5 separate regions of the Homo sapiens genome follow, and all the other regions are linked to region 2. Evidence: fine-mapped expression QTL. A gene starts in region 2. Each other region holds a variant in brackets. All regions are shown on one strand. Distances are between the middles of the regions.

The links. PIP is the estimated chance that this variant, and not a neighbour inherited with it, causes the effect. A credible set is the group of variants that fine-mapping cannot tell apart.
Region 1: its variant is the best candidate, but not a certain one, in a credible set for the expression of RBM19 in whole blood (INTERVAL, PIP 0.77).
Region 3: its variant is the best candidate, but not a certain one, in a credible set for the expression of RBM19 in follicular helper T cells (Schmiedel 2018, PIP 0.80).
Region 4: its variant is the best candidate, but not a certain one, in a credible set for the expression of RBM19 in thyroid (GTEx, PIP 0.71).
Region 5: its variant is the best candidate, but not a certain one, in a credible set for the expression of RBM19 in Th1 cells (Schmiedel 2018, PIP 0.63).

What each region holds. Positions count from the first base shown.
Region 1 is chr12:113,825,335-113,831,326 of GRCh38, reverse strand. All of the region lies in intron 23 of RBM19 (RNA binding motif protein 19), which reads left to right. Among named protein-coding and RNA genes, the nearest start is that of LINC01234, 55 kb to the right of the region's middle. The variant G/A (reference allele first, on the strand shown) is at 3,993.
Region 2 is chr12:113,963,419-113,969,410 of GRCh38, reverse strand. RBM19 (RNA binding motif protein 19) reads left to right here and starts at 3,086. Exons shown (of 24, transcript NM_016196.4): 1 at 3,086-3,219. The coding sequence starts at 3,184. RefSeq lists enhancers at 2,780-2,849, 2,808-3,735, 3,736-4,664.
Region 3 is chr12:113,842,136-113,848,127 of GRCh38, reverse strand. RBM19 (RNA binding motif protein 19) reads left to right here. Exons shown (of 24, transcript NM_016196.4): 23 at 3,340-3,460. Among named protein-coding and RNA genes, the nearest start is that of LINC01234, 71 kb to the right of the region's middle. The variant C/T (reference allele first, on the strand shown) is at 3,255.
Region 4 is chr12:113,818,724-113,824,715 of GRCh38, reverse strand. It overlaps RBM19 (RNA binding motif protein 19), which reads left to right. Exons shown (of 24, transcript NM_016196.4): 24 at 1,395-2,659. The coding sequence ends at 1,492. Among named protein-coding and RNA genes, the nearest start is that of LINC01234, 48 kb to the right of the region's middle. RefSeq lists enhancers at 4,915-5,840, 5,841-5,992. The variant G/A (reference allele first, on the strand shown) is at 2,281.
Region 5 is chr12:113,859,734-113,865,725 of GRCh38, reverse strand. The region is part of intron 21 of RBM19 (RNA binding motif protein 19); the gene reads left to right. It overlaps LOC124903025 (a long non-coding RNA gene), which reads right to left and starts at 3,755. Exons shown (of 2, transcript XR_007063468.1): 1 at 1,910-3,755; 2 at 1-1,358. RefSeq lists enhancers at 1,691-2,289, 1,540-2,739 and a silencer at 2,421-2,530. The variant CAG/G (reference allele first, on the strand shown) is at 2,513.

The sequences.
Region 1 (5,992 bases), 140 kb after region 2:
TTATTACTGCTTCATGACCACAAATGAAAGTAGTGGGGTTTTGTAGACAGAGAGGAGAGAGAGAAAAGAGCAGAGACCACACTGGCAAGTTGTCGGCTGAAATTAGATCTTTATTTTGCCTACCAGTTATGAAAACAATGGTTTTGAATGAATCATCACTATTTTCCTACTGGAAGATTTGACCTGAAAATCAAGATTCTGACCTCTTCTGAAAAATCAGATTTGGCCAGCCTGGTTCCACATTCCCACAGGGCACCAGGCCCAAGGAATGGCTGCACGTTTATACGAAGGCTGGGCTTCCCCTTACGCACAATGCATAGCCCTCCCTGTAGTCTCCCCCGACCCCCTGGACTGTTTGATGCCATCATATTCCTATCTGGACCCTCGAGCCTTTGCACTTACACAGCCTGGTACAGACACCACTATACCTTGGCCCTATGAGATGTTACCAGCTGCTCCCTTTCAGCCTCTGCTTTCCAACCCAGGGCCTATGCCAAAAGAAAAGAGATCAGTAACTAATGTGGACCAAACCCTAAGACTTGGGGGATTCCTCCAGACCTGAGGCAGAGGAGTAGGGGATGCCTTCCCACCTTTCCTGGTTCTTTTTCCCTTTTCCCTCTGCAGTGAGTCACCCTCACCGGGACACTCCCCTTGCTTCCCAGCCGCACAGGTCTGCCAGTATCTGTAACTAATACAAACATGTGGGACCAAGTCTAGAAGCCCCCAGGCATAGCCCACCCCCCCCCCCCCCGCCCCGCAGCCCTAGCTCAGGGTAACTCCATGGGTATCAGGGCTGCAGCACCTTCACCAGCCCCTGTGTATGGGGTTGTGCGTGGCCAGTCATAGAATTCTGCACACACACAAGACACCCAGAGCACAGAGGGAAGTTACTCCACCCACCGACCCACTCTCCAGCCACTCAGGGAGCCCAGGTCCTCAGCACCAAGATTAATAACATCAGTCATCATAGCAGTCATCATATCCCGTGCTCACCCCAGGCCATTTGCATCAGAACCTCTGGAGGTAGGATCCAGGCATCAGTGGGTTCCTAGCTGATGCTACCAGACAGCTGGATTGAGAACCAATGGCCTTTGAAAAGGAAATTGCTGCTACATAGCCTGGGTCTGTTCATGCTTTTCCTGTTGAGACCCCCATCCTAGGGAGGCTGGGCTAGTGTCCCCCTCTGCGGGGCAGGCTTTGCTATGCTGTGCCAGTAAGGCTGGAGCCAACCCTATCTGAGCTCAAGGTCCTGCTTGGAAAGTGTGACCACTTGACTCTTCAGAGTCCTAGTGCGGCTGCTTCCTCATCTGAAAAGTGGGACAATGATGTTGCCTAGCTGGTGGAATTTCTGTAGGAAAGTCCAGAGCCAGCCTGCTGCTTAGAGCCAGCAGGCGCCTGAGGAGTGGTCCCTGCAGCTCGCCCCTTGGCCTTATCTTGGGCAGCTGGATTTCCCCTTTGCTGGGCACTGCCTGTCCTCTGGGGTGGCCTCACAGGACCCTTTGATTGTTAGCTTTCATGTTTGCCTGGCACCTCAACGGGCCGGGCCCTGGGCTAAGTGCTCTCATGCTTTATCTCATCAAATCCCCTGTGGTGGGTGCTACTACTGTGTCCTGTCTGCAGAAGAGTAACTTTGGTAACTCAGAGAAGGCTGGGACCACCAAGTGGCAGCACTCAGGTCCCACCTCGTCCTGTCCACCCTGAGCCCCAGTGTGGCCCCCATGGCTGGTGGTTTAGTTTATCCTGTGGAGTTTTGTTCACTGCCATATCCCCAGCATCATTCCTGGCACATAGAATATGCTGGGTCATGCTTGCTAAGAGTGACTGAAGGCAGGAATCCTTACGGTCCCCATGAGATAAGCAGAGCAGGCACCGTCCCCGTTTAACAGGTGGGAACACTGAGGTAAGGAGCTTAGCAGCTCCTGGGAGTCCCACAGTGGCAGAGGCCAGTCTGCGGCCCAGGCTCCTGCCCACCCGCTCTGCACAAGGACCCTCTCAGATCATACCTAGTTCTTAGAAGGACTCGCTGTGTTTTAAAAAGGCACAACTGGCTGGACGTAGTGGCTCATGCCTATAATCCCAGCACGTTAGGAGGCCAAGGCGGGTGGATCACTTGAGCTCATGTCCAACATGGTGAAATCTCATTTCTACTAAAAATACAAAAATTAGTTGGGCCTGGTGGTGTACGCCTGTAATCCCAGCTACTTGGGAGGCTGAGGCACAAGAATCACTCAAACCCGGAAAGCAGAGGTTGCAGTGAGCCGAGATCGCTCCACTGCACTCACCTGGGTGACAGTGTGATTCTGTCTATTTAAAAAAAAAAAAAGGCACAGCCCTAAAACAGCCTCCTGTATCAATAAAGGGACATTGGCTTGGTCTTAGGAGCCAGGCCAGTCTCCTGAAGAGTACCCTTTATTCTGTGCGTACCTGATGTGTGCCTGCTGTACACAGAGCCCTGAGATGCAGACCTATCTGGGTAGGAGAGCTCTGCCCGTGGGGGCTGCAAGATATGAAGCCAGGGAGGACAGGGAGAGACCCATGCAGAGGCACCAGCAGCTGAGGGTGGGGGTCTGGTTCAGCCAGCCTTCCAGAGCAGGCAGCCTCCCAAGCCAGGCCAGCCCCCGGGTGCCCAGCCCCCCTGCGGTACCCACATCATGGCACCCTCATACTCCCCAAGGGTGGGAGCTACAGGTGGCTGGTGTCCCCCAGCAGCCTAGGACTGCACACCACTGAGTCTGAAGATTGTGGAGCCTCATTCTGGCCTCCACACTCTGCCCCAACCTCCTTCCTCCCCTCGCCCACCTGTGCCCCCGCCCCCTGCCCTTCACCCCGGCCTCTTGGAATCAGTTCTGTCTCCGACTTAGCGGAGTTTGTGGAAGCCTTGCCTATCCTGTGTCTCGGGAAGTAGCAACTCAGGAGCCTCCAGGAACAGGAAGAAAAGCCCCCATAAGTGAGGCTGCGTGTCTCCAGGGGCAGCTAGTGCACAGCCTCATCAGTTACCTGTAGGCAGGGAGGGGACAGGTCTGCCACACTCACAGGTTAGCCATTCCAGGTTCAAGAGAAACGAGAGGTGCAGATTCTTATGTAGCATCTCCCTGTTTTTGAACATTAGTCACTGATTTCTGTATTCATGGCAAATCATGTCAGCAAATCCAGACACTCTTCTGTGGGCCCACAGTGGGAGGCCCTGCTCCATCCCATTGGTCACTTTTTTTTTTTTTTTTTTTTTTGAGACAGAGTCGAGAGCTGCTGTTGCTATCATCGTGTTATAGAGGAGGGGAGCAGCCCACCCTCGTGCTCTCAGTAACAGATTCCATCAACAGCAGTAAGAATGACCAACCTATATTGACAGCTTGCCGTGTGCTAGGCACTATTGTGAGGGCCTTACATACATATATTCATTCTTTTAATACCCTCACACACCCTAGGCGTGTAGATTTCATCACCATTCAGTAACTGCAGAAACTGAGAGGAGCCCAGAGAGGTGAAGCAACTTACCCAAGGTTGCCCAGCCAGGAGCAGCAGGGTTTGATCCTGGCAGCTCACCCACCCAGCACCCTGCATCTAGCACCCTCCACCCTGTACCTCAGGCCTCTCCACTCAGAATCCAGCCCTGGGCTTCCTGGCCCAGTGCTTTTCCCCTCCCCGGACTGTTCACGCCTGCCTCATCCCAGGGTTCCTTTCAGAACTCCCTTCTCCCCTTATCAGCCACGCTCTTCTCCCCCGGCTTGCCTTTCCTCAACGTCTGCTTCCAGAACAAAACCCCAAGAAGCGCTTTCTCTTGTCCTCCCGACGCACCCCCCCGCCCCCCCGCCCTTTCTCCCTGCCTGCGCCTTTCTCCCTGCCTGCCTGCGCCTCCCATGCAGGGCCGACAGCGCCAGCCAGGGAAGGGAGAGACACAGGCTGGCATTCTGTCAAGGAATTAATTGAAAAATAAAATCATTAGGTGGGAACTCCAGAAATGCAAAAATGGTGGTTGGAGGTTGGTGGGGAGG[G/A]GGGCAGGACTGGGGGGTTGTCGGGGGATGGCTGAGCTTTTTGTCAAGTTAATTTCTCGGGTATTGATGTTTGGTGACATTCACTTGTTGTTTATCTTCGGGTGCAGCTGTAATACTGAAAGAAAATGCACAGCTTGTTTCGTTTATTTATTTTACACCTTTCTCCGGTTCTGCATTATGTTTGTTTGGTGAAAACCCACTGAGGCTTTTGATGTCGGGGAAGTGGGATTTCAGCAGCTGTTCGCTGCAAACAGGGTGCTCCTCAAGGAAGCAGGGCCAGCGGGAGGTGCGGGGTGTCATTCGGTGGGAACTCGGGGCCTGACATGTCCTCCAGGGGGCAGTTGGGGGCCCAGCCTGAACCCTGGCAGATATGCCAGGCCCAGGAGCACGGAGGCTGGCTTATGATACATGAGTACATAGTTGGCAGGTAAAGGAATGAGATGTTTTGGTTCATCAAGGCCACAAAGCCAGGCTCCGCGTAAGAGCCCCCGCCCCATGAGTGCTCACTGCCCCAAAGACCAAGAGAGACACGAAGTCAACACCTTTCCTATCAATAATAGTAACACAGGTGTTGGTCTCAGCACCATCGACTGAGCCAGGGGCTGGGCATTGCCCTTTTTACTCATTTCAGCCTCACCACAACCCCTAGTATTTCCATTTTACAGGTTAGAAATTGAGGCACAACTATCTGGTTCTTTCTCCATCTCCCCCTGCCAGACCAGAAAGCCTTAGGTGGGGCCAAGCCAGGCTTGTTCCCCACCATGCCCGACCCAGAGCAGGTGCTGCAGGTGTCTCCGTCATGTGAGGGGATGAGAGCATGGATGAAGGCTCTGAACAACTGCTCTTGGCCTCGTCTCAGCTGCTGTTTGTCCTTCAGCAACCTACACTACTTGACCCTCAATTTTCCCTGTCATTCACTCCCTCAGTCGCTCAGCACACATTTATTGAGCATCTACTATGTGCCAGGCACAGTTCTGGGCATTGGGAATGGAACAGTGGACAAAACAGGCAGAAACCCCTGCCCTCCTAGAGCAGATGTTCCAGCCAGGAAGACAGATAATAAAGTGGAAACATGACACACAGTGAGACCGGGAGACATGCTGTGGGGGAAGTGGACAGGAAAGGGATTAGGAAGTGTACATCAGGGCACTCTGGAGGACTTGGAATTTTAAATAAGGAGGGAAGCTTCACTGAAAAGGTAAGGCCCCTGAGTGGCTCCGTGGAGGAAGAGCATTCCAGACCAAAGGAACAGCAGGTGCAAGGCCCTGAGGTGGGAGTGCTGGAAGCCAGGAGCCAGCAAGGGGCCCGAGTGCCTGAGCAGAGTGGGAGGGAAGCAGAGAGGTGGCAGGGCCTGCTCAGTAGCCCTGGCAGCCGACGTGACAGCTTTAGCTTTTCCCCAGGTGAGATGGTGCCCCTGGAGGCTTGAGCAAAGGAACAGCATGCCGTGATGGAGGATTTAACAAGCTCCCTCTGGCTGCCGTTTGAGACCAGACTCCTGGGAGGAGGGCAGAGGAAGCCAGAGGCAATGGTGGCACGGCCCAGGGGTGCAGGAGCATGGGGAAGAAGCACCCCAAGTCCAGCTCTATCTTACAGGTTGAGCCGACACAATGGATGGGGCTAGAACTCGCCCCTCGCCAGTCCCTCCAAGTTGTCAGGATGTGGGAGAGAAGAAAAAGTCCCATGCCGCCACCGCTGGCCATCCCTTAGACCCCAGGCCAGGCCTGGCCCAGGAAGGCAGGGACCCTGCCCCAGGAGTGAGCTGCCATCCCCAACTCATATTAGCAGATGGGAGGGGCGTCAGTGATCGCCTGTGGGCCCTGTTTTGTTGCGTTCTATTTTCCAGTTCCTATTACCTGCCCACAAATTCAATTTCCAGAGGCCATTGTGCACCTCCAGGGCTGGCGATTATAAGGAAACCAAGAGTGTCTAGGAGGTCACAAGGAAGGAGAGGAAGCCGGAGTCCGAGCCCCGGGCCGCCAGCCCCCACCACCCCAGCCCAC
Region 2 (5,992 bases):
ACCTACACATGACGTTCTCTGTGTGTCCTTTAAAAGGACATGTGTCATTGGATTTAGGGTCTACCAGGATAATTCAGGATGATCTCATTTTGAGACCCTTAAGTACATTTGCAAAGACCCTTGATATGGTTTGGCTGTGTCCCCACCAAATCTCATCTTGAATTGTAGCTCCCATAATCCCCACGTGTCCTGGGAGGGACCCAGTGGGAGATAATTGAATTATGGGGGTGGTTTCCCCATACTGTTTTCGTGGTAGTGAATAAGTCTCACGAGATCTGATGGTTTTATAAGGGGAAAGCCTTTCACTTGGTTCTCATTCTCTCTTTGCCTGCCACCAGGTAAGACATCCCTTGCTCTTCCACCATGATTGTGAGGCCTCCCCAGCCATGTGGAACTGTGAGTCCATTAAATCTCTTTCCTTTATAAATTACCCAGTCTCAGGTATGTCTTCATTAGCAGCGTGAGAACAAACTAATACAACACTTTTTTGCAAATAAAGTCACATTTACAGCTTCCAGGGGTCAGGATGCCCCCAGTGTGTGTGGTGGTGAGGGGACAGGGGATCATTCATCCCACTACACTGCCCACCCTTCTGTAAATAGCTTTTTGTCCAGATTTGCTTTTGTTAAATCCTTTTGAGTATACCTCTGTGTCCTGCTGACTGATGCATTTCCTTCAAAAACATTTATAGCTACATACCTACCGTTTTTTAACAACTGCATAGAATTCTGTTGAATGGACAGACCTTAATTTACAATTAGCATTTAATGAACTCCTATTACCTGTCTCCTCCTGGTGCCCAGTGTGATGCTTTGCAAAGATGGATCTAAGGATGCCCCTATGGCAACATAATGTAGAAAGAACAAGTGGCCTCATCTATAACTCTGAACCTACACTGTGCGCTCCTCACCAGCGAGTTCTGTAGGTTTATGCTGTGGCAGATGCATGAGCTCCCTGCATTTGGGGCTCAGTAGGAAAGAGGCATATTCGAGGATGCCATGTTTGAGCTGGTCTTAGAGAGGGGATGGGAATGGGTTCAGAAAGATATTCCAGTGGCCAAAAGCACATGAAAGATGCTGTTTCATTAGTTATCGGGGAAATGCAAATCAAAACATTGAGTCACCACTGTACACCCACTAGAGTGGCTATGATTATAAAGACCCAATAACAAACACTGGAGGAGATGTGGAGATATTTGAACCTTCATATACCGCTGGTAGGAATATAAAATGGGGAAGCCACTTTGGATAACAGGTTAGCAGGTTCTAAAAAGGTTAAGCATAGAGTTACCATATGATCAGGCAATCCTACTCCTAGGAATATATCCAAGAGAAATAAGAACATATGCCCACACAGGAACTTACAGGTAAATGTTCACGGCAAGATTATTCACAGTAGCCACAAAGCGGAAACAACCCAAATGTCCATCATCAACTGATGAATAAATAAAATGTAATACATCCATATATGTAATACTATTCAGCAAAAAAAGTGTGGTGGCTCACGTCTGTAATCCCAGCACTTTGAAAGTTCAAGGCAGGTGGATTGCTTGAGCCCAGGAGTTCAAGACCAGCCTGGGCAACATGTTGAAACCTCGCCTCTACCAAAAAATTACCAAAAAAAAAAAATTAGCCAGGCATGGTGGCATGTGCCTGTAGTCCCAGCTGCTCAGGAGGCTGAGGTGGGAGGATGGCTTGAGCCTGGGAGGCGGAGGTTGCAGTGAGCTGAGATTGTGCCACTGCACTCCAGTCGGGGTGACAGAGCCCGACCCTGTCTCAAATAAATAAACAGATAAATAAAGTGCTGATTCATGCTGCAACATGGAAGAACTTTGAAAACATTATGCTAAGTGAAAGAAGTCAATTACAAAAGACTACATATTGTATTATTCCATTTACATGAAATGTCCATAACAGACAAATCCATAGAGACGGAAAGTAGATTAGTGGTTATCAGAGGGAAGGGAGAGGGAGGAATTGGAAGGTTATAGCTAAAGGGTGTGGTGTTTCTTTGGGGGTAATGAAAATGTCCTAGCATTGATTGTGGTGATGGCTGCACACCTCTGTAAATATAGTCAGCACCATTGAATTGTGCACTTTAAGTGGGTGAATTGCATGGTTTGTGATAAAGCTGTTAACAATAAGAAGGGGGGACGGAATGTCTTTTAGGTGAAGGAAATTGCAGAAGCTTGGCAGCAACGTCCAGTGCAGCTGAGGCACTGTGGGGAAACAGAAAGGAAATACCGTCATTTAAGAGTGAAAATAGGGGTTTTCATAGGATGTCTCCATCCAAGAGTAGGTACCGAGAATGCTCAGAGAAGCAATAGGAAAATAACATCCCTTTCACGTTCTCACCTCCTTAACCCCTAGCATAATAAAGAATTATTCCCATTTTATAGAAGTAGACACAAAGGCTCAGAGGCCATTTTGGCCAAGATCTCTCAGCTAGAAGATTGGCCAGCTGAGAGTTCCAAACATTAGGAAGGGAGGCAAAATGCTTGTGGGGCTGGGGTTGAAGGCGTAGAGACTCATTGTAGGGCCCTAGGCAGTCCCTAGCTCGAATCTGACTTTCCAATTCATAGTTATAAGACTTTGAGCAAGCTGCTTTACACGCACGATTCCCAGTTTATCTGCCTGCAAAATGAGAGCGTTTATTTCCAACATGTTCATTCCAAGTATTTACACAAAAGGCTCAATACTTGATTTGTGTTGGCTGGCAATCTCTCTAAACTTCACTTTCCCCATTTCTACGAGGAAGGCAAGGGTCCCTAATCTTGCCCCCGTTCTCAGGGGAGTCCTAAGGCTCAATAATAAAAATAAAATAAGAAAAAGGAGAGAACGCGATTGCCCGGTTGGCGCGACCCTTAACACCGAGCTAAACCGGCGCATGTTAGGGACCGGCGCCCCCTGCCGCCTTCTCCGCTGCATTGGCGTCTCACAGAATCCGCCCAAGGCCCTGCGCCTGCGCAAAATGCAAGCGCCCAGGCCCACCCCTTGTGGGGTGTGACCTCCCTGAGTAGTTTTGGATTAGCCACGCCTACTTCCGGACAGGTCAGGCCAAGGTCTCAGCCACGTGACTGTGTTCCGGCTCGGTAAAGATGGCGGCGCCCAGGGCGGTAGCGTGAAACTTGGTGGAAGACGCTGACCAGTCGTGTTGGAATCAAAACAGCGGGGACCCTGCGCCATGTCGCGACTGATCGTGAAGAATCTCCCGAATGGGGTGAGTGCAGAGGCAGGACTTGGGAATCTGAAATGAGACCAGCCGGGAGCTGTGAGGTAGGGAAGAGATGCCTGGAGGTGATCGAAGAATTTTTGCTCTGGGGCAGGACTCCGGGCCAATTCTGAACTCAAAGGGGGCGGGATCCTGGGCTTATCCCCATTTGATCCCGAGGAAAGAGGAATAGTGACTGCTTACGGTTTCACGGCCGGTTGTTTGGTACCTGACTCCTAACACACCTCTTCTCGGGGAGATGACAACTCCCACCTTGTGGCGAATACCCTGCTCCCACAACCTCTTTCATTCGATCACTGTTTTTTAGTTGTTGACCCGGGACATGGTCCGACACTGTATTTATATTCCTCTCCCAGTCTGGAAACTGTTGGGGAAGACATGGGGAATATTAATCTGCGGACCTGCGTTCCAATTCCCACTCCCATCCTTAGGGCAAGTAGGAATACGGAGTGGGTAAAGGGCTTTACAGCATTTATCCAGTAAGTGGGGAGTGGTGACCCAGCCATACTTTTTTGTTTCCCTGGAGCCCAGCGCAGAACCCGACACGTGGTAGGCAAAATAGGTGAATGTACGTAATATTAGATGATTAGATGCGGTGGGCTCGAATGGATCATCCTTTTTTCTCTCTCTCGCTGTTTTTTGTTCTGTTTTGTTTTTTTGTTTTTAAATGGATTACTGCTCCTTCCATCAGGTTAGACAGTGTCTCTTGATGCCTCGCTTTGTGGGATGAGGATTTTTAGCGTAGCTGCACTTCCTTTCCCTCCCAAATTCAGCTTTGTTGTGTTTCAAGTGTAGTTGATTCTCTTATCATTGTTTGTCTTATCTCTTTTTTTTCTCTCTCTTTCATGGCTTTTTTTGGTTTTGTTTTTTGTTTTTTTCTTTTTTTGTTTTTTTTTTTTAAACGGAGTCTGGCTCTGTCTCCCAGGCTGGACTGCGGTGGAGCAATCTCGGCAGTCTCGGCTCACTGCAACTTTTGCCTCCCGGGTTCTAGCGATGCTCCTGCCTCAGCCTCCCAAGTAGCTGGGACTACAGACACGCGCCACCAAGCCCGACTAATTTTTTTATTTTTAGTAGAGACATGGGGTTTCGCCATGTTGGACAAGTTGGTCTCGAACTCCTGACCTCAGGTGATCCACCGCCTCGGCCTCCCAAAGTGCTGGGATTACAGGCGTGAGCCACTGCACCTGGCCCCCATTTCTGTTCTAATGTTGTGAGTTTTTTCCTTTCCTTTTTTTTTTTTCATTTGTCAGGTGGGACAAAGGAACTTTGTAACACACAGTTTTCAAAATTCAAACAGTATAGTAGTGTATAACATGAGTAGCAAAGTCTTTGCTCTGTCCTACCTTCCCTCTCTGTCCAGGAGTAACCATCTTCATTGATTTGTTTTTGGGACTCCTCACATGTATCTCTGTATATTTGAGGAGTGTACTTTCCTCCTTTTGACCTGCCTGCCCCAGTGACTATCTGCTAGGCCTCAACTGTGAAAAATAAGGAATTTAGATCATCTGTTCCTCCTCTCCAGTGTCTGTAATATTCTTGTTTTTAATTATCCTGTTATAATCTCTGAGTAGTATACTTAAAAATATCTATTACTCATCCATCCATCAGGTTAGACATGTCTCTTGATGCCTTGCTTTGTGCGATGAGGATTTTTAGCGTGGCTGCACTTCCTTTTCTTCCCAAATTCAGCTTTGTTGCACTTCACAGTGTAGTTGACTCTCTTATCATTGTTTGTCTTATCTCATGAATGAAAGAATAATAAAAACAAGGGCAGTTGCAGCTGACACTTGGAGAGTTTACTGTGTGCCAGGCACTGTTCCAGGTGCTTTAGGTAAAGTAACATTTAATCCTCACCATATCCCTGTGAGGTAAGTTTTATTTTTACGCCCATTTTAAAGGTAAAGAAACCAAGATACAGCGAGGTACAGGGATTTGCCTGAGGTCACACACTGGTGTAATTTATAGAGCAGGGATTGAATTGAGCAATCTTTAGTTTAGGGATTGAATTGAGGAAATAATTAGTAGTGAGTACTTGTGATATTGCTGACACTGTAGATAGAGGTGGATAAGCCTGTGTCCTTATTTTTAATGGGACTTGCAGGCTAGCAGAAAAGAGAGGCACCAGATCATTACGATGCAAGGTGCATCACTGACATGTGAACCGAGTGCTGTGGGAGCACAGTGAGGGTTGGTTATCTCGTCCATCTAAGGCATCTAAGAAAGGCCTCCTGGAATAGGAGATGATTGAACTGAGAATGAGGAGTTAGCCAGGGCCTGTCTTGGGAAATATCACCCAGAGGGGACAACCAAAGTAAAACCTCGGAAGTGAGAAGGCTGTGAGAAATTTGTCAAAGCGTGGTGCTGAAGAGGTTGGTCAGGGCAGATCTTGAAGAATTGCATGTTTTCCTTTAGGTGCTCGTCCTTGAGACTTTGGTGCCAGAAAGTCACCGAAAGGTTTTTGGCAAAGGAATGATGGATTCAGACTTGAGCCAGGTCTCTCCCAGGCACTGAGGAATTGAATTCACTGTCTTATATTTCTGAATTGAGTCACAAACCTTGATTCTGTAGGCCTTGGGCAGATCATTTATCCCTTATGAGTTTCATTTTCTCTATAAAATGTGGACAAAAATTCCTAACTCACAGTGTGATTGAGATTTTGATTAGATCAGTTAGTAAGAAGCTACCTCAGAAAATGTCATCTTCTGGCTGGACTGCCAAGGCCTCTAGCTTCTTGCATTTTCAAACTTATTTTGGCTGTTCG
Region 3 (5,992 bases), 120 kb after region 2:
TTCTCACTACTCTTTGCTGCTGCCCTCCTTTTACATATGAGGAAGCTCGGGCTCAGAGAGGTTCAGCAGCTTGCCTGAGATCACACAGCTCATAAGCACTGGAGCAGGGATTTGAACCAAGGCAGGCCAGCAGCAGAGCCCACCCTCTAAACTGCCATGCCACCACCCCTCTTACCATGAAGAGCTCTTCCAGAGAGAGGCCAATAACGTGTCAGAGGAGTGCAGAGGGAAGAGAGAAAGATTTGTGAGAGGTGATGTCGCAAAGAAGCCAAAAGAGGGAATTTTTAGTGACTCCTGCAATGAATAGAGATCTCCTGGGCTTTCTGTGGTACGGGAATAGAGAACTGGCTTCCAAGGGAGAGAAAGAAACATTGAAATCTGACAGTGGGAAACAGAGAGGCTGGGGTTGGGGCCTCTCACCCGGACCTACCTCCTGGGATCTTATTCCGTTCTTGAGAGTTCCAGCCTAGCATTCACCAGATGCATCCCCTTGGCCACCCCCACCCCACCGTGTCCCCGGGACCACAGCTCCTCAGGGACCCTGGCACGAGGATGGAACATCCGCCACACCAGACTCCCCACCAATTCCTCTCCCCCATCTTAAAACCCCAGCTCCCCCAGTCAAGCCATTTCTCTGCCTCGCCAGCTGAGAACGCGTGTGTTTTAAAGCTCTGAATGGGCCATTTCGGCTCAGAGTCCAGATGCATTTTTATATCCACATGGAAAAAAATGCAGAGGCTCTGCTGGCAGTCAGAAAGAGTTTTTTAAATTAAAGTTAAAAAAAAAAGGAAAGAAAAAATTTTCTGCACCTGGTCCTTCACAGAACAGCACAGAAGAGAACAAAGCGTTTCTTTAATTTGGCTGCATGTCTAGTTTTAAAAAGATGCATGTTCTAGTCACCTCCCTTTTGTCTCTTCGGATTCATTTGTTTATTGAATGTGTATTATGTGCTGCCCTCTGTGCTCGTTTTGTGTAAATCTCACAGCCAGCCCCAATAGGGATGAGGAAACGGAGGCTCAAGATGTGGCAGTTGATTACCCAAGGGCATTGCGTCCTTTCCCTAGGGCTACTATAACAAAACGCCACAGACCGGATGGCTTCAAACCACAGAAATGGGCTGGGTACAGTGGCTCAGGCCTGTAATCCCAGCACTTTGGGAAGCTGAGGCAGGAGGATCACTAGAGTTCAGGAGTTCAAGACCAGCCTGGGCAATGTAGGGAGACCCCGTCTCTACAAAAAATTAAAAACTTAGCGAGGCATTGCAGCATGTGCCTGTGGTCCCAGTTACTCGGTAGGCCAAGGTGGGAGGATTGCTTGAGCCCAGGGGTTCGAGGATGCAGTGAGCCATGATCACACCACTGCACTCTAGCCTGGGTGACAGCGAGACCTTGCCTCAAAACACATTTTAAAAATCCAGAAATGTGTCTCACAGTTCTGGAGGCCAGAAGTCCAAAATCAAGGTGCTGGCAGGATTGGTTCCTTCCGAGGGAAATCCTGTTTGGTGCCTCTCCCCTGGCTGCTGGGGACAGTTGGCATCCTTGGTTTGTAGACTCATCACCCAGTCTCTGCCTCCATCTCCCCACGGCATTTGCCATGTGTCTCTGTCTTCACATGGCCATCCAATGACACTAGTCATTGGCTCAGGGCCTGCTGTTCTCCAGTATGACCTCGTCTTGACTGATTACATCTGCAGCTACCTATTTCCAAATAAGGTCACATACTGAAGCACAGGGGGTTAGGACTCAACATGGCCCCTCTTGCGGGACAGGGTCTGACCATAGGAGCTACAGTGTAGATAAGGAGCACAGTTGGATGGGTTCCCATCCAGACCCTTCCAGTTATATGATTCTTCACAGCATAAAAGAAACAAGAGCAGCAAACCCCTCCTCTTCTTGTACCCACTGGTGCTCTCTGCAACCCAGAAGCAAAGCAAAGGGCCTTCTTAGCCACCGTTGCTCTCCACTGCCAATGCTCAAGCACCTGGAGCCTACTGCTCTTTAAACTAATGCCTGCCCGAAAGCTGTCTGCTGAGAGAAAGCAGCTGCAAATGTGATGTCTACGGTAACAAAACAACAGCAACGAGAAGTAGCATCTATTGAGTAATTATGGTGTGCCCATACTGTTCTAGACGCTGTTAACTCATTTTTGTCCCTAGAACCCTTGAGATTGGCATATATGAACATACCCGTTTTATGGATAAGGAAACAGAGTCCAGGAAGATTTCTTTAACTTGCCCAAGATCTTCAAGTTAGGACCTGCGGGGTCTGTCCTTCCTGGTCAGGGTGACCTCAGACTCCAAGCTTTTGGCCACTAAGCTCACGGCCTCTCTGTGCCGTGGGAGTGTTTGGGGATGAGCCCATCAAGTTAGGGCGTCCCTGTGCAGTGCCATTGAACTTGAGACCTAGCGATGTTTAAGACGGTACTGATCACTACCGTATGATTCCGTTCCTATGAAATGTCCAGAATATGCAAATCCATAGAGACAGAAAGCAGACTGGTGGTTGCCAGGGGCTGGGGGACTGCTAGCTAAGGGGTGTGGGGTTTCCTTTGGGGGTGATGAAAATGTTCTAAAATTGATTTGATGACATTTTGCACAGCTCTGCGATTATACTAAAACGCATTGAATTGTCTTCAGACAAGCAGTGTATATAGTATGTGAATTCTGTCTCAGTATAGCTGTTAAAAAGCAGAAAGAGGGAACCAGGCAGCATGTGGGAGTCGGGAACAGCAAAGAGTAAGCGGGAACAGCCTGTGCCAGGACCCAGGCTGCTGAGCTGGGGGTGGGAGCTGGGAGCGGGAGTTGGGAGCGCAGGGCTGGGGGAACCAGCGAGGAAGCGAAGGGCACTGGCAGCAGAGACAGAAGGGGCCCCTTCAAGAGCAGCGTGGGGGACAGAGTCACCAGGGCAGTGAAGGAGAGCGACACCCAGTGACACCCAGAGGCCTGCACGCTTGTCATCCAGCAGCCGGCCAGGGCTCGGCTTTCTCAAGTGGCCGCCATGCAGACAGCCGGGTGGGAGGCGAGCCCACTAATGGGGTCGCCCTCCACAGATCGGATGACACACGGCAAATAGACGGCTGCCTCAGCCCAGGCACCAATTACAGCCCAGACGGCAGATATATTGACTGCTCAGTCACTTGCAGCTTTCTCCCTGGGAATGCAACCCACTAATTAAATAGATGTGCCCAACCGCTCCCCAAACCCTCGCTGGAGATCAGATGTCACGGGGCCAGAACCTGGGCTTTGGCATCTGAGA[C/T]GCAGGCAGGCAGCTGGCAGGCAGAGTGGAGTGTCTGCCGCACTGATCCAGCTGATGTGCAGTTTCGTTTCTTGTCCCTCTGCAGAGAGCCTTCAACGCCCTGTGTCACAGCACCCACTTGTACGGGCGGAGGCTGGTGCTGGAGTGGGCCGACTCCGAGGTGACCCTGCAGGCCCTGCGGCGGAAGACGGCCGCTCACTTTCACGGTAGGAGCGGGACGGTCTTTTGGGCTGACTCATGGGCCCCCTGGGGAACACAAGAGGTGGGTGGGACATCTGAGAGAACTGCCCTCGACCCAGCAGGCTATGGGCACAAGGGCTGCCAAGCACCTCCTGCTGGGCATCCTCCCACAGCCCCTCCAGACCTGCTGTCCACCTTCCTTGGGCACTCCCTGCCGGGAGGCTGGCCTACATGGAAGCATCTGGGTTCTGTGCCCCTTTGGGTTGCAGTCGGGTTAGGTCACTGGGGGCCTTGGCAGGAAGAGACAGAGGTCAGAGTGTTTATCCCTCCCTGCCTGCCAGGTTGCCAGGTCACAGCTCGTGGCCGTTGGCTCTGTCCTCACAGTGCTCTGTGTTCAGATTCCGGTGTCCGCAGGGCAGGGATGCTCACGGCCTTCCTGGTGGCCAGCCCTGGGGACCACACTCTTGCTGATCACTTTCCTCCATGACCCGGTCCACTTCCTGCCGGAGGGCTGATGCCCACAGGTCTCACTCACCTCTTACCCACCTTGGTGGTGTCATGTGGCCTCAGTGACTATTCAGGTGGTGGCCAGAAAATACTGAGCGCCCGCTGTGACCTCATGCACCCACATGACAGTAACCAAGCAGGGCCCTAGGCTCAGGTGGAAGAGGCTGGGACACATTCCTCATCAGGTGGGCTAGAGAGGCTTCACTGCAGAGGTGACATCTGTACCCAACAAAGGGCTGCCTAAGCAGGAGGCCAGGGGCAGGGGAGACCCCCAGGTTGGAGCAAGCTCGGTATGTGTGAGAAACAGGGAGGACAGCATGGCTGGAGGTGAGGGGAGGAGAGAGGGAGCAGATGAGGTCAGCAGGGCCTCGTCTTCTCCAAGAGGTTGTGTTCAGTCAGGTGAGGAGAGGGTGAGACAGCCCCAAGAATCGCTCCACCCTGGACACATGGAAAGTATGGCAGGTGCCCCTTGCTGTCAGGTACACACCCTCCAAACTTGGGATATCAAGGGGTACTTGACCTTGATCCCCATCTCCACACCTCCGCCTCCCATCACAGAAGTGCTTCCACTGTGGCCTGGGCCCGGCAGCAAAAGGGCAGCTGCTGGCTTTCCACCCACTTTGGATCCCGCTTACTTGGCGATGGTTCACCCAGCTGGGGAGCTTCTCTGCCTTTTGCATGCCCAGAAAAGCCAGGCTCCGTGATGGGGAACAGTCCTGTCTGTGGTGCCACCCATGGTGCTCTGAGGTCTTCCTGGCACGCCACCGCATTCCTCCCCACCTCATTGTCGCCTGGGTCCCAGGTCTCAGGACCTTTCCTGGATGGAGCCACCATTGTGCCCTCATCCATCCCTTCTCTGTGGGGCAGCTCAGGGCCTCGGGTGTCACCTGGGTACAGACTAGGGGTGTTTGCTGCCAGCATCCCCCAACCCCACTTCTCTGCGTAGACATGGAACCTGGAGCCAGGAGTGATTATTCCCTCGCCTGACCGGTGCAGCTCTGTTGCCAAACCAGGCAGCACCTTGGGAACAGTTTCTCTTATGGAGATAGGAGCCTTCCAGTGGGGCCACTGGTCTTGCTTAGGGCGAAACGACTGGGCTTCTGAGAAGCAGCGTCTCAGCAATGCAGCAGGACTGCATCCCCCACAAGTGGACTTGGAACTCCAGAGATAGCAGGGAAGCCCCTTGATTCTAGCCCAGCTGCCACACGCTTCAGAACACTGCCTCCTGCCCACACTGTGGTCTTCCCAGACTCCTCCTTCCTCCCACCACACCTCCCACAGAGTTCATTGTTCCCCAGACTCCAGACAGGATTCTGTGCCTTTGCACATGCTGTTCCCTCTGCTTAGAATGCCTTGCCCCTCACTTTTTTTTTTTAACCTGATAAATGCCTTCAAAACCCAGATAGAATGACACCTCCTCCAGGAAGCCTTCGCTTTCCCTCCCCCTCCACAGGTATCAGTAATTTCTCCATCCTCTACTCTCCTCTTCTGTCACCGTGCCTTCTTGCCACGTTGTAACTTATTTCTTTACGATTTGTTATCCTCTCTGGACCCGTGCCTTCCCCACATGGGGGCTGTGTCGTGCTCATCTCTCTTAGTGATCAGTTCTTCCCTGGGTCCCCCGTGCCCAGCATAGTACCTGGCACATGCCAGGCTCCCAGTCTCAGACTGGGGAATATTCGAGCTGAGGCAAATGTGGAACCAGAGAAATGAAGGCTAAATACACAGTTGCAAGCTCACAACTCAATAAGACCCCAAATCCTGATGTGCAGAAAGAGAGCCTGTCCTTATCGACAACCATTGACAAGCCCAAATGCGCCCGTCGGCAAATGTTTGTGTAAGGGACTCTCCCTGGAGTGGAGACGGGGGCCCATCTGCCCCGCCACCCCCATCCCCCAACCCCGGGGCCAGCCGAGGAGTGCAGGCTCAGCGGTTCTGCCCTGCCTTAGAGAGAAGCCCCCTTCAATAAATTGAGTTCCAAAGACAGCACTATTGCCTCGCCACAGTGGAAAGACTTAGCTGGCAGCATTTCTGTGGGATTGACTGTCTCC
Region 4 (5,992 bases), 140 kb after region 2:
CACGCAGAGGGAAACCAAGTCTTCATCTCTGGGCCAGGCACTGTGCTAGCCCTGGGGAGGTCTCAGTAGAAAAGGCTAGGCCGCTGCTGTGAGCTCCAGGGAGCTCACAGCCTGCGGATAAATGGAGGTAAAGGGCCTCAGGGTGGTTTATTTGGGGAGGTGTTTGAGCCATGGAAAGGGAGGGGATTTGGACAGCCTCTTTACACTGCCTCTGTACAAATCAAGCCTTATCTGTGAGCAAGGCTGCTCATCGACAAGTGGTTAGACTAGCAGAGGGACTGACAGAGGAAGCCAGCCTGGATTCCAACCTCGCTCTTTTCCTGGAGGGCCAAGGGGCCCCACACGTCCTCTCCTGCCACCATTGATCCCCTTGGAGTTCTCTGCCTAGAACCCGAGACTTTCATAAAAAGCAGAAAGACTGTGGGCTTAGGTGTGACTGGGGTTCGAATCCTGGCTCCACCGCTTCTTAGCTGAGTGACTTCAGACCTGCCTGTCCGTGCCTCAGTTCCGTCTCCTACAAGAGGCAGCATACCACCTGCCTGTGGGGTTGCTGACAGGAGTGGAGCCATGGTTCATGATGGTACCTAATCAGGAGGTGCTTGTGGGGCTAAGCCCACCATGCCCTTTCCTACCTCCGTGCTTTTCTTCATGACCCTGAATCCCCTCTCCTCACAGAAAACTCCTCTGCATTCTTCAAAGCCCAAGTCAAATAGTCCTCCTCTTCAAAGCCACCTCTAATTGTCATTCCCTCCACGCCTCCTCTGGAATCCTTGAGCTTTGCATCTGTTCTATTCACCCACCACTTATCGAGCACCTGTTGTATGCCAGCCATGTACTGCACCATTAGCCTGGCCTCCAAGAAAACAGAAACAACTTCTACTTGTCTCCCCAGCCGTTGTCCACTGCTTGGTCCAGCCTCTCTGAAGGGTTTCAGCTTCCTCCAAGCCAAGCTCTGACCTGCTGTGAGGAAGCAGCACAGGAGACCCTTTCTCTCTTTTTTCTCAAGGGAATCCTTTCCCCTGCGGGTAGAAGATGGGGAGGGGATGGCCAGGGAAGCAGGAGAGTTTCTGGGGGTGCGAGGGAGGCAGCCCCGCCATGGTGATGCTGAGACTAACTCTAGTGTTTCTCTCTCCTCCTCATTTCCCCTTTGATTCTCTCCCCTACTCCTTATCTTTCTTCATTGCCCCATCCTCTCTCCACCTCCCTCTGTATCTTCTCTCCCTCCGCTCTCCCCAACTTCCCTCTCTTGCATTCTCTCGCTTCTGTTCTGTCTCCCCGCACCCTTGTTCTGCTCATCTCTCCCCTCTCCCTCCTTCCTCTGTCATTTCTCTCTTCCTGCCTCCCAACCCTCTCGGCTGTTCTTTTCTCCTCTCTTGCCATCTGGGCTCCCACAGAGCCCCCGAAGAAAAAGCGGTCTGTGGTGTTGGACGAGATCCTGGAGCAGCTGGAAGGCAGTGACAGCGACAGCGAGGAGCAGACCCTTCAGCTGTGAGCTGGCACCGAGAGGGTGTGTGGCTCCGGGGCCCTGGGGACCGGGACAGCCGCTCCAGCTTCTGCACTCACCACCATGTGGGCTGGGGGGCGGGGCGGGGAGCGGCAGGCGGCCCCACCCTGCACTGGTCCAAGGTCGGAGGAGACAGGGGATGAGGAAGGCCTCAGGCCACTGCCCAGCGGCCCAGGCATCCTGGGTTTCACCAGTGACGCGTTCTAGCAGACACTGACTGCGCACCTGCTCTGTAGCAGACACGGAAGAGTCCAAGGGAGCAGCCACGTTAGGAAGAGAGACTTGGGAACAGCTACACAGGGAGCTAGAACCCCTGCTCCCCCTGTCCCCACCCCAGGAGAGTAAGGGGACGAGGGCCAGCTCTCTGGCATCAGGCTGCTTGGACATGAAACCCCGTCTCCAAGCTCAAGCTGGGAGACCCTGGCCCAGTTTCCTTATCTCCTTGGGCCCAGCCTTCCCCTTGCTAGCTAGTTCTTACTTCATAAGGTTTTAGAGAGAAATAAACGCAGTAATGCATGAAGAGTGCCGGGCATGGTGCTGAGCCCTGTTCCTGCTCTCCCTCCAGGGCTGCTGAGCTAGAATTCCCACCTATGTCTTTCCAAGGGACTGTTCACGGCTTGGGACTTGGTCTCTGTCCTGCCCCATCCTCGTCACTTGGGACCACGAGCCCTGGTTCAGTCACCCAGGGAAGCCTCCCAGCGGCTCATGAAGCATCGAGCTCCAAGCCCAGATGCCAAGCTCCCTGGCTGAGCTGAATGATGTCACTCATGGTGGAC[G/A]CGTTCTGCTCACGGGCCCAGAGCCCTGTGAAATGCATCAAGGTCCTCTCCGCTGGCCAGCAGCATCCCCAGGCTTCTCTCAGGCGCCCGTGTTCACATTTTCTCCAGCCTGAGACGCAGCCTCCCGCCTGGAAGGGCCTGTGCCAGCACCAGGCAGAGGGCAAGACGGAGAGGGCAGAGCAAGAACTGCACTGCATCTCACTGCAGTCTGAATCTAGACATCGCCATTCCCCGAGGTGCGACCTCAGACTAATGACATCCTGGCTGAGCCTCTGTTTTTCTCTCTAGGAAATGGGGGTGATAATTGTGCCTACCTCAGATAGACAGTGCCAGAATTAAGTGAGTCAAGCCAAGTAAAGCCCAGAGAAGATTCTCATCAGCACTTTTGTTTTCTTCTTCATTTAGAGTCACTGGGTGGGCCTCCAAGTGAGAGTTTGGGAATCTTCAGACTCTGTGCATAAAACATGGTCTGTGCATTTTGGTGGGGATGAGGTTCCAGTCTTCATCCAGTTTTCGGAGTGGCCCAGAGCCCAGGCAAGGCAACACAGAGCTGGCAGCCTGCACGACCAAGCATGCGCCTCGTGTCCTCTAGGGCAGGCACCCCCTTAGCCATCCAAGCTCATCCCTGAGAATTCGTGGAAACAAAAGACACAGAATGGCTCGTTCCCCAGCCGTTTATTTTTAATTTTTTTAGAGACAGGGTGCAGTGGCATGATCATAGCTCACTGCAGCCTCAAGTGGTCCTCCCACCTTAGCCTCCCAAAGCTCTGGAATTACAGGTGTGAGCCATCACGCCCAGCCACATTCTCCAGCTTTTATAGTGGGGTGGCTCACAGAGTCACATCAACCACAGCCTTCTGGATGTGGGGGCTGAACAGTGTCTCTGTTAAACCACACCCAGGCCGACCCTCAGGTGACCAGGGTCCCAAGTTGCCGTAGGTCATGCGGAATGACAGGGCTGGAGACCTACCCCATGCCTTCCCACTGCTCAGATCTGTGAGCTGGATCGTGTCCTGTTCGGCGGCACATGGCTCCTTCTGGCTGAACCTTCTGGTCTATACAATTTGTACTCACATTTCCACACCACCAGAGCCAGCAGGGATGGCTGGCTGATCACCAAAACTCAGGTGTAGACCCACGGGCCTGGTGCAGAGGCAGGCATCTTTTGGCACTGACTTAACTGGCCCAGAGGATGCTTCTAGAACCTCCCCCCAGAGCAGGATTCAGCATCATCCAGGGCTTGGTGCGGGGTGAGCAGACATGGGCTCTGTATTCGGATCTGCCTGGGCTCCGTAACAGTCCACCACTCTCCAGCCTCGTGAGCCTCGGCAAGTGACTTAACCTGCTGAGTCCTCAGTCTCCTCATCTTTAAAATGGAGTGATGCAAGTAGCATCTCCGTCACAAAAGCGTTATCAGGCCCAGGCAGCTGCAGGCCCCTGCCAGGGCTCACACAGTGAAATGATGGGAATCAGGGCTGTCCAACCCTTCCTGCGTCACTGCCTTCCCTGTGGCCAAAAGAAAGCTGGTGAGCTGGGGAAGGTTCAGGAACTGCAGGAGAGTGAAAGGTAGCAAGAGGAGGGAGAGCTTCCAGCCACTCGCCAGGCCTGGCCTGGAATTGGCAGTGGGGAGTGAGGCAGCCTAGAGGCCATATACTGAGCCTGGCCCCTGCACCCCTGCCCCAGGCACGCACTGTTTGGAAGGGGCAGATCTGTGAGCACACAGGAGTAGTGGAGTCCACTCCCACAGAGATCTCAGGGTGCCCCTTCATGCCGCGCCCACCAGACTGCACCCTCATCTCCTCTCTTCCGGCTCAGCTGTCCTCGTGCAGCCAGTGTGGCCTGACTGATCCGTGAGCTGGATCATGTCAGTCTGCAGCTTCAAACCCTCTAGGGCCTCCCTGACGCATGGAAAGTCGAGTCCCGCTGCTCACCCCAGCACCGAGGCCCCACCTCACCTGACCCTGCACTCGCTGTCCCGGCCTTCCTCCCTGCAGGCTCCCACCCCAGGGCCCTCGAGCTGCCTCTTCCCTCTGCCTGGGATGCCCTTCCCTCACATTCTTCCTGCGTGGCGCCTTTTTATTTTCCTTTGAGATCTTAAATCACGCTTGTCCAACCCAAGCTTGGGCTTTGAATGCAGCCCAACACAAATTTGTAAACTTCCTTAAATTTGCAATTTTTTTTTTTTTTTTTAGTTCATCAGTTATCACTAGTGTTATTGTATTTTATGTGTGGTCCAAGACAGTTCTTCCAGGGTGACCCAGGGAAGCCAAAAGTTTGGATGCCCCGGTTTAACTTCTGCTTCCTCACTGAGGGAGACAGACTCCTGATCAGTTCGTCTGCAGTAACCACACCCAGCTCCTCTTTACACCCAGCCCCAACCCCCTATCCCCCATCCCCTGTCCCTCTCAGTCACAGCACTCAGTACAGGGGACAACCTGGAGTGTGAGCAAGATCTCAGTGACCCAGAGCCTTTTACCCTGTCAAAAATAACTGTTTTAAACGGGAACTAGGAAAGCAATTAAGATTTTTGTTACAATCATCATCATTGTTCTAGAATGCAGTAAAGTACAGCCAGGTAGCCATAAAGCGGAGCTCGGGAAAAGTCATTTGCCTGGCCCAGAGGAGGGGCTTCATCTCTTCTTCCTTTGGAGAAGAGGGACTGGTGAAAGCGTCTTACGAGAAATTCCTCCATCCAGCATGTGGGGGTTGAACTGGGAGACTCTAAGCCTTTGAGCCAAGGCAGCAAGGGACTGAGTCACCGCTGTCACTGGGAGGGGGACACGGGAGCTTTCTGAAAGGCGGCTTCGGTTGTTTTTGAAGCAATGATGGGACGTTGGTAGACACAGACACCCAGAAGATCTGGGAGAGAAACTCCAGAAATAACCCACAGAGGTGGCACTGAGGAGGGAGCACTCCTCCAGGGCGGTGAGCCTCCTGACCCGGCTCAGGACTGACTGCTGCAGGGGGCAGGAAACTGCCTCAGCCACATCTCAGGGGGCTGTGACCCTTCCCTGCCGATATGGTCACCAGAGAGCCGGGAAAGAGAACCATAACAGGCTGGACCAGAGCACTTGCGTAGGAAAGGAGAGGTGACACCAAGAGGCCAGAGGGGCCAAAGGGACACAGGGAGGTGGGAGGTCAGTAGGACACGTGCCTCAGAAAAGCCAGAGGCACACATCTGGATGAGGCCTGTGACCCGGTGTTCAGAGTGTGGCTCAGTTAGCTGGGAGGAACGGGGACAGGCTGTTTCCAGAGTGGAGGGCTGGCTGGAACCGCATCTGCTGTCCTCACGTCCGTCTCCCACCCGCTGTGGGTCTCAGGGGCCTGGCCCCTTGAGCTGTGTCTCTGAAACTCCCTTATCAAGAGGCTTGTGTTCAGTTTGGCCAGCAGTGGGCACTAGCGGGCGCCTGGAAGGCTGGTAGAAGAGAAACTCCAGGCATCCCGCCCTCTCCCTCTGTCCCACGTGGCGTCTCCACCAAGGGTCCACCCCTGGATGGGTGAGGAGGGCCCTGGCATCTCTACTATAGGATACACACAGTCAGACTGCAGGAGGGAGATGGGTGGTCAGACAGGTCCTGGAGAACAGACAGGGGTGAGGGACAGTGGGGCCTGGAGGAGGGACAGGAGTGAGAGACAGTGGGGACGGGAGGAGGAGAGCGGAATGCACAGGCCCTGACTCCAAAGGCCTGCGTTAGAATCTCTAGGCTCTCAG
Region 5 (5,992 bases), 100 kb after region 2:
ACTGCATAAAAGAGCATCATCCTATGGGACAGAAAGACTGAATATGTTGCCCCCAAGTGTGACTATGCTTCCACAAGAACATACAGTTATATGAGATAATGCATGAGAAGTATAGGGACCTGGCACTCGGGGAGATGTCAATAGATGATGAATTCATGATTAAATGAATGGATACAGTGTTTTCTGAGTGCTAGACACAGTCTCAGGTTCTGTAGACACAACAGAGTATAAGAGCCATGACATCTTGGAGTCCACTTTCAGTCTCTAGCAAAATGAGAGGAAAGATAAATAAGTAAACAAGCCATTTCAGACAGTGCTCAGATGTGACAGGCAGGGGTGGGTGTGCAAAGGAGGCAACGTTAGATAGGATGGTCACAGAAGGCCTCTTTGAGGAGGTGGCATTTCAGCTGAGAATTGAATGGCAAGAAAGAGTCAATTGTGAAAACATCTAGGCAAGCAGGGTTCCAGGTGATACAAAAAGCAAGTGCAAAGGCCCTGAGGTAAGCATACGTTTGGTGGGTTCAGGGAATGGGGAAAGCCAGTGTGGATTCTTCATAGTAAATGAGGGGGTGCAGGGCATGAGATAAGATTGGAGAGCAAGAAAAGTATGTCTGATCAGGCACAGCCTTGATTCCCAAGTAAGGAGCTCAGAAATTATTCTAAGGATGCAAAAACCATTAGAGAGTTAAGCAATTTGGAAGAGATGATGACTGGCACATACACACAGAACTCCAGGCAGTAGTGGCCATTGAAACCCACTGTGGGAATGGTGATGACTGACAGATATTCATGAAACTGGGGACAGTAGTAGCCATTGAAACCCACTGTGGGAGTGGCGATGACTAGCACATATTTGTGAAACTTGGGGCACTAGTACCCATTGAAACCCACCAGACTGATTGGATTAGCCTCTGTTAGAGAGTTGGATGAGACAGGCTTGAGACAAGCCCTCACCAAAGGCTTTAGTTTGTATGTATCTCAGGAAAAGTGAGAATTTTAGATGATAGTTCTGTTCCCAAGCCTCCCTCCACTACAGAAATTGCCCATTATAGATGAAGGGATAGGTTTGTTCCTAGCTGTGCAGTTGGTCTATCTCTCCAACTTGCCACAACTGGGGCCCTTGGCCACATGGGAACTCTGTAAGGGAAGAGGAATGTGAGACAGGACACCATGCAAGGCAGCTGCCATCTTACCATATTTCTTGCTCAGTGGGAATGGTTCCATGGGTCCATAAGTTCACTGGTGGGGCCCTTCTTTAGGATGGGGCCAGGGGAGCAGTAAGCAAAGATCAGGCATCCTCAGCTCTATACCTTTATCAGTTGAGATAAGTGGCTTTATCCCATAGTCTTCTTGAGCATCTGAGGAAGAGGGGAGGGAGCTCACTGGCTGCTTCCCAGCTAAGAGGCTTCCCATGCAGCTGCCCCCAATCAAGGTGAGGGCAAGGTTAATACTTGACCTGCTGGTGACTCCCTCCCTGCACTCTGCATCATCTTTGGCTGCTTGTAGATAGGTGGACCAATCGTGTGAGCTCTTAGCAAAGCATAGACCTGTGGGGCACACCGCCTACTTTGAGCCTAGCTAAGCCTGATGCTGCCCATGGAACCTTGGGCAAGTCACTTCGCCTGTTGTGGTAGGTAAGGGCTCACCGAGACCTTGGAGAAATCATGTTCCTTCTTTGAGCCTCAGTTTTCTCCATCTAGGAAATGGGATTGACATTGCTCAGCTCACATGGGCCTTGTGAGTTCATGTCCAGCAGGTGCTAACATGCTGCAGGGCACGTAAGCGCTGAGGAAGTACCCAGTGAATGGACAGATGTGCGTGTATGTGCATCATGTGTGTTAGAAAATTGGTAGGGGTGGCATATTTGAAAGGCTTTTTAATGCCAAGAGATTGAGCTATTTTTTCTTACCTCTAGAAGGAGCAGAAGAAGCTTGTAGTTTATTCTTATCATGAAACCACCCCTTCATCTTGTTCAGATCACACCGTTGTTCTGATTCTGGGTCTCTTAGGTGGCAGCAGACTTTCTTTTCTCAACAATGCCTTGGGTGCAGGTGGGGAGAAGTTATGCCAGCAAACTCCCCCACATGACTCAGCACTTCTGCTGGGATTCTGGTTCTTCCAGCAGATCCGAATAGTGAGGGGGACTTATGTCCTGGGAGCAGAAGGCCCTAGGTTTGACCCCCACTTGGTGCCAGCATGCAGGCTGTGGGGTTAAGCAGGACTCCCAGCCTGCCCAGGCTCCAGGTACCAGCACAGCTGCAAAACTGTCCAGCTCCGCATCTCTGGAGGGTTCTCGCTTCCTCTGCTCCAGCCTTCCTCTCACTTCTTTCCCCCTGAGCCTGTCGCTTCAGTCAGGGAGGGAGAGAGAGACCCAAGATGATTCATCCCTTTTCGGTAGCAGCTGCTGGCCAGGGCTGGGGCAAGACCAGTCAGGGGGCACGCAATTTGCACGGAGAGAGGAAATCCCCACCCACCCATACGCTGGCCCCACACACACACACACACACACACA[CAG/G]ACACACGTATTGTGTCTGCCTTCAGGCCTGTGTGCAAACACGATTTCCATCCCCCGACTTGTTTATGAGTGCTGGGCATAATTGGCTTGCCTCATGCAACACCTCGGAGCCCCATCCCACCTCCTCCCCCCTCCTCCCTTCTCTCCCCCCACCACACACCTCAAAAGAAATTAGAAACGTGACAACAAACTCTAGTTGTGGAAAACCCACAAACCCACCACCAATCATGTTCCTGGCATGGCAGAGGGGGTGGGGCTGCAGGGTGGGGGAGTAATTGGTGAACCCAGGGTGAATGAAATAATTGGAAAAGTGAGGTGTGAGTTTGTTACCGAAGTGTGAGCCTGGTGGGGGAGGGAAGGAGGGCTGTGTTTAAAAGCCCGGTATGTCCTCTTTATTCACAGCTTCTGATACAGTAATTGCTACTTTGTGGTTTCTATTATCTGCACAGTGGGGAGTGTGGTGTGCATCTCCTTCCCCCCGAGCGGCAGAGTTGGGCTCAGGGAGGAGTTCCTGGGTGCCCTGTGATTTTCTTCCTCCCCAGTCCCTGGTGGCCCTGCGCAGCTTCGCCCCAACACTGGCCTCAGCTCCCAGGAGACAAAGGTTCATGCACAACTTCCTTCAAAAGCTGCTCTTAAAAACAGCTTCGTAGACCTTGCTGTCAGATAAGAACCTTAATAATGGCTGGTATTTATATATCGCTTATCTCCAAGGAGCTAAAGGTACTTCATCGATTTCTTCTCCCCCAACCTTTTTTTTTCTTTTTAATTCTCTTTCGATAGCTCTCTGAGATCATTAGTATTGGCCTTATATGATCCCACACCGTTATACAAGCAACCAAGCCACTCACTGTCCAGCTTTGTTCTTGGGCTGGGAGAAGCAGCCCGGATGAGAAAGATCTCGCCTCGATTTTGAGTTCCTGGGGCCATGAGACATGGGCAAGTCGCTTTTCTTCTCCGTCCCTTGGTTTTCCCATCTGTAAAACAGAGGCATGGATATGATGTATTTAAAAGACTGCATATTGCAGGCACTCATTGGTAGCGGAAATGATGGCAGCAATGATGGTGTCTTGAAGCCTCATCCATGCATTTCAGGAAGTGTCCACAGACATCGGGAAGTTCCTTCTAAGATCTAACCCTGATCTTTCAGCTCCTCCTTAAGCTTCAGTTCTCTCATGTCCTGTTCTTAGAAGGAGGAAAGAAACCTGCTCACTGTAGCCATTTCTCTGACTCTGAAGAATAATAGGATTTCTGAAGCTTCTAGAGTCTTTGTGGGTGGCGTTTCATTTGTCATGCTGATGTCTGCCTGGAAACCCCCAACCACAGCTGTGACCTCCCCCAAGGCCCTTCAGCTGCCTGGGATGGGATCCCCAGCTCCCTGATCCCTGCCTACGATCCCTGGTAGATCCAGGGTGCCCTTCTGTCCCAGCTTTCCCTGCTGAACTCTCAAATGCCACTTTTGCAGGCCACAAAAGCATGTCTTCTGTAGCCTCTCCTCAACAGCGTTTTTCTCTACCTTTTAATTATTTTTCTCGCCTTTCTCCGGACCCTTAGCTGCTTACCATGCACAGAGCATCCACAGCTTGCAGTGTGCTGCAGAGAGGGAGGAATTAACCCCAACAGTCTCTTTCTCTCTCTCTCTCTTTCTCTCCTTCTCTCTTTCTCTCTCACACCACCACCCCCCGACCCCTTCTCTCCTTCACACACACACACACACACACACACACACACACACACACAGAGTCTGGCTTACCAGAAATCTGGGCAGAGGTCATTGAGACCATCAAGGGATAGGAGATTATAGCCCTTGTGGGCAGAAGTAGAGGGTTTGCACACAGTGTGGGCAGAAGGAACTGGGACTCGGTCTACCCCCACCTTGCCTGGTGGTCTTAGGGAAGTCACTGGACCCCTGGGAGTCCACACAGGGCATTCCTAGCCACCCCGTATGGGGCCTTCCTGCTTCACCTCAGACCTGGCCGAGACTCGGGAAGAAAGAGGCCCCAGCTCTTGCAAGTGGCCAGTCCCCGTCCAGATGATGCAAGCGGGTTGAGTCATTGTGCAGCAGAAAGAGAGCTTGGGCTTAACGTCAGACATGCCTGGATTCACATTCTAACCCTGTTGCCTGTGAGGAAGGATCCCTGGCTCCCAGAGCCTTGGTTTCTTCATCTGTAACATGGGAATGATAAGGCTAACAATAGTTCACATTTGTGCTATGTGTATTTCATTTCACCCTCATCACCGCCCTCTGAGGGTAGGTGTAATTTACCCGTGGTAATGTCTACCTTCCAGGGCTACCATTTGCTTGTTTATTCGTTCCAAAACACCTTCAGGCTTCTACCCTGAGCCCGACTCCTGGGCTCACTGACACAGGTCCAGTGATGAGCAAGATAGATGGGGCCTGGACTCTTGCGGAGCTGAGCCCTAGCCCTGGCCAGGGAAGGCATGCACCCCACAGAGCCCTGGTCAGGGGGCACAGTGAGCGGTGACACTGTGGATGGGGGCAGTCACCCCAGCCTCCAGGGGTCAGGAAAGACATCTCGGGGCTAGTGCAGTTAGGTGAGGCCAAGGCACGGACAGAGGAACCAGCTCACCCAGTGGCTGTCTATGGCCGTGTTGAGAAAGCACCCAGCCTGGTCTTCCATGTGCCTCTCAGTTGCCTCATACCAGCTCTGAACGCTCTCAGGCTCCAGCCCCTTAGCTGCCGGATGTGCCATCCCTGTAGTCCCAGTGGGCTTCTGAAGACTTGGACCCAAAGAACCATTCATCTGAACGAGCTTACAAGAAAATTTGTCCACGCCCTTCCCTCCCTGTTCAAAGCCAGCATGGCAGAGGGGCTTTGGTGGAGGGAAGAGAGACTGTGTCTGTCATGGGATGCATCCGCCTTTAGGTGGCAGAATGAAGTAGGGTTTGTGGGCTTGACTCCTCAGCTCTCCAACCTCACCTTGTCCCCACCTGCCCAGCCTCTGGTCCCCAGCCCTGGCCCCCCTCCAGCAGGGAAACCTGACCGGGCTCCACTCCCCACGTTCCTGGCTCCTTCCCCTCCCCGGGAGGCTGGCCTTGTCACCAGTGCCTCTCTGCCGTTTCTCGTTGCCTGCACAGAGGAGGCACCAGGAGGGGGGAGCAGAGCTGCTGGGGAGAGCTCCGAGGAGACGTGCAGATTCATTTTGAGGATTCATAATGCCGCATTTACACACTGTCCTGCCTTCAGAAATTGGGCTGGCAGATGCCTGGTCATGCTGGCAGGGCTGTGGGTTAACACTTCGGATTTAGCTTATATCATTTCACGAGAGCTTACGGCCTTTACTGTGTTTTTTACCCAATCAGTCTTTGGCCCCGAAGCATCCTAGACCATCGTGCATATGTGTGTGTGCCCAGGCAGCCGCAAGTGTGTGTAGATTTTCAAATAAAATAATACCTCTCTTCAGATGCCGTGCACATTAAATATTTATCGGTAGCAATTTGTGCATATATATTTGATAAA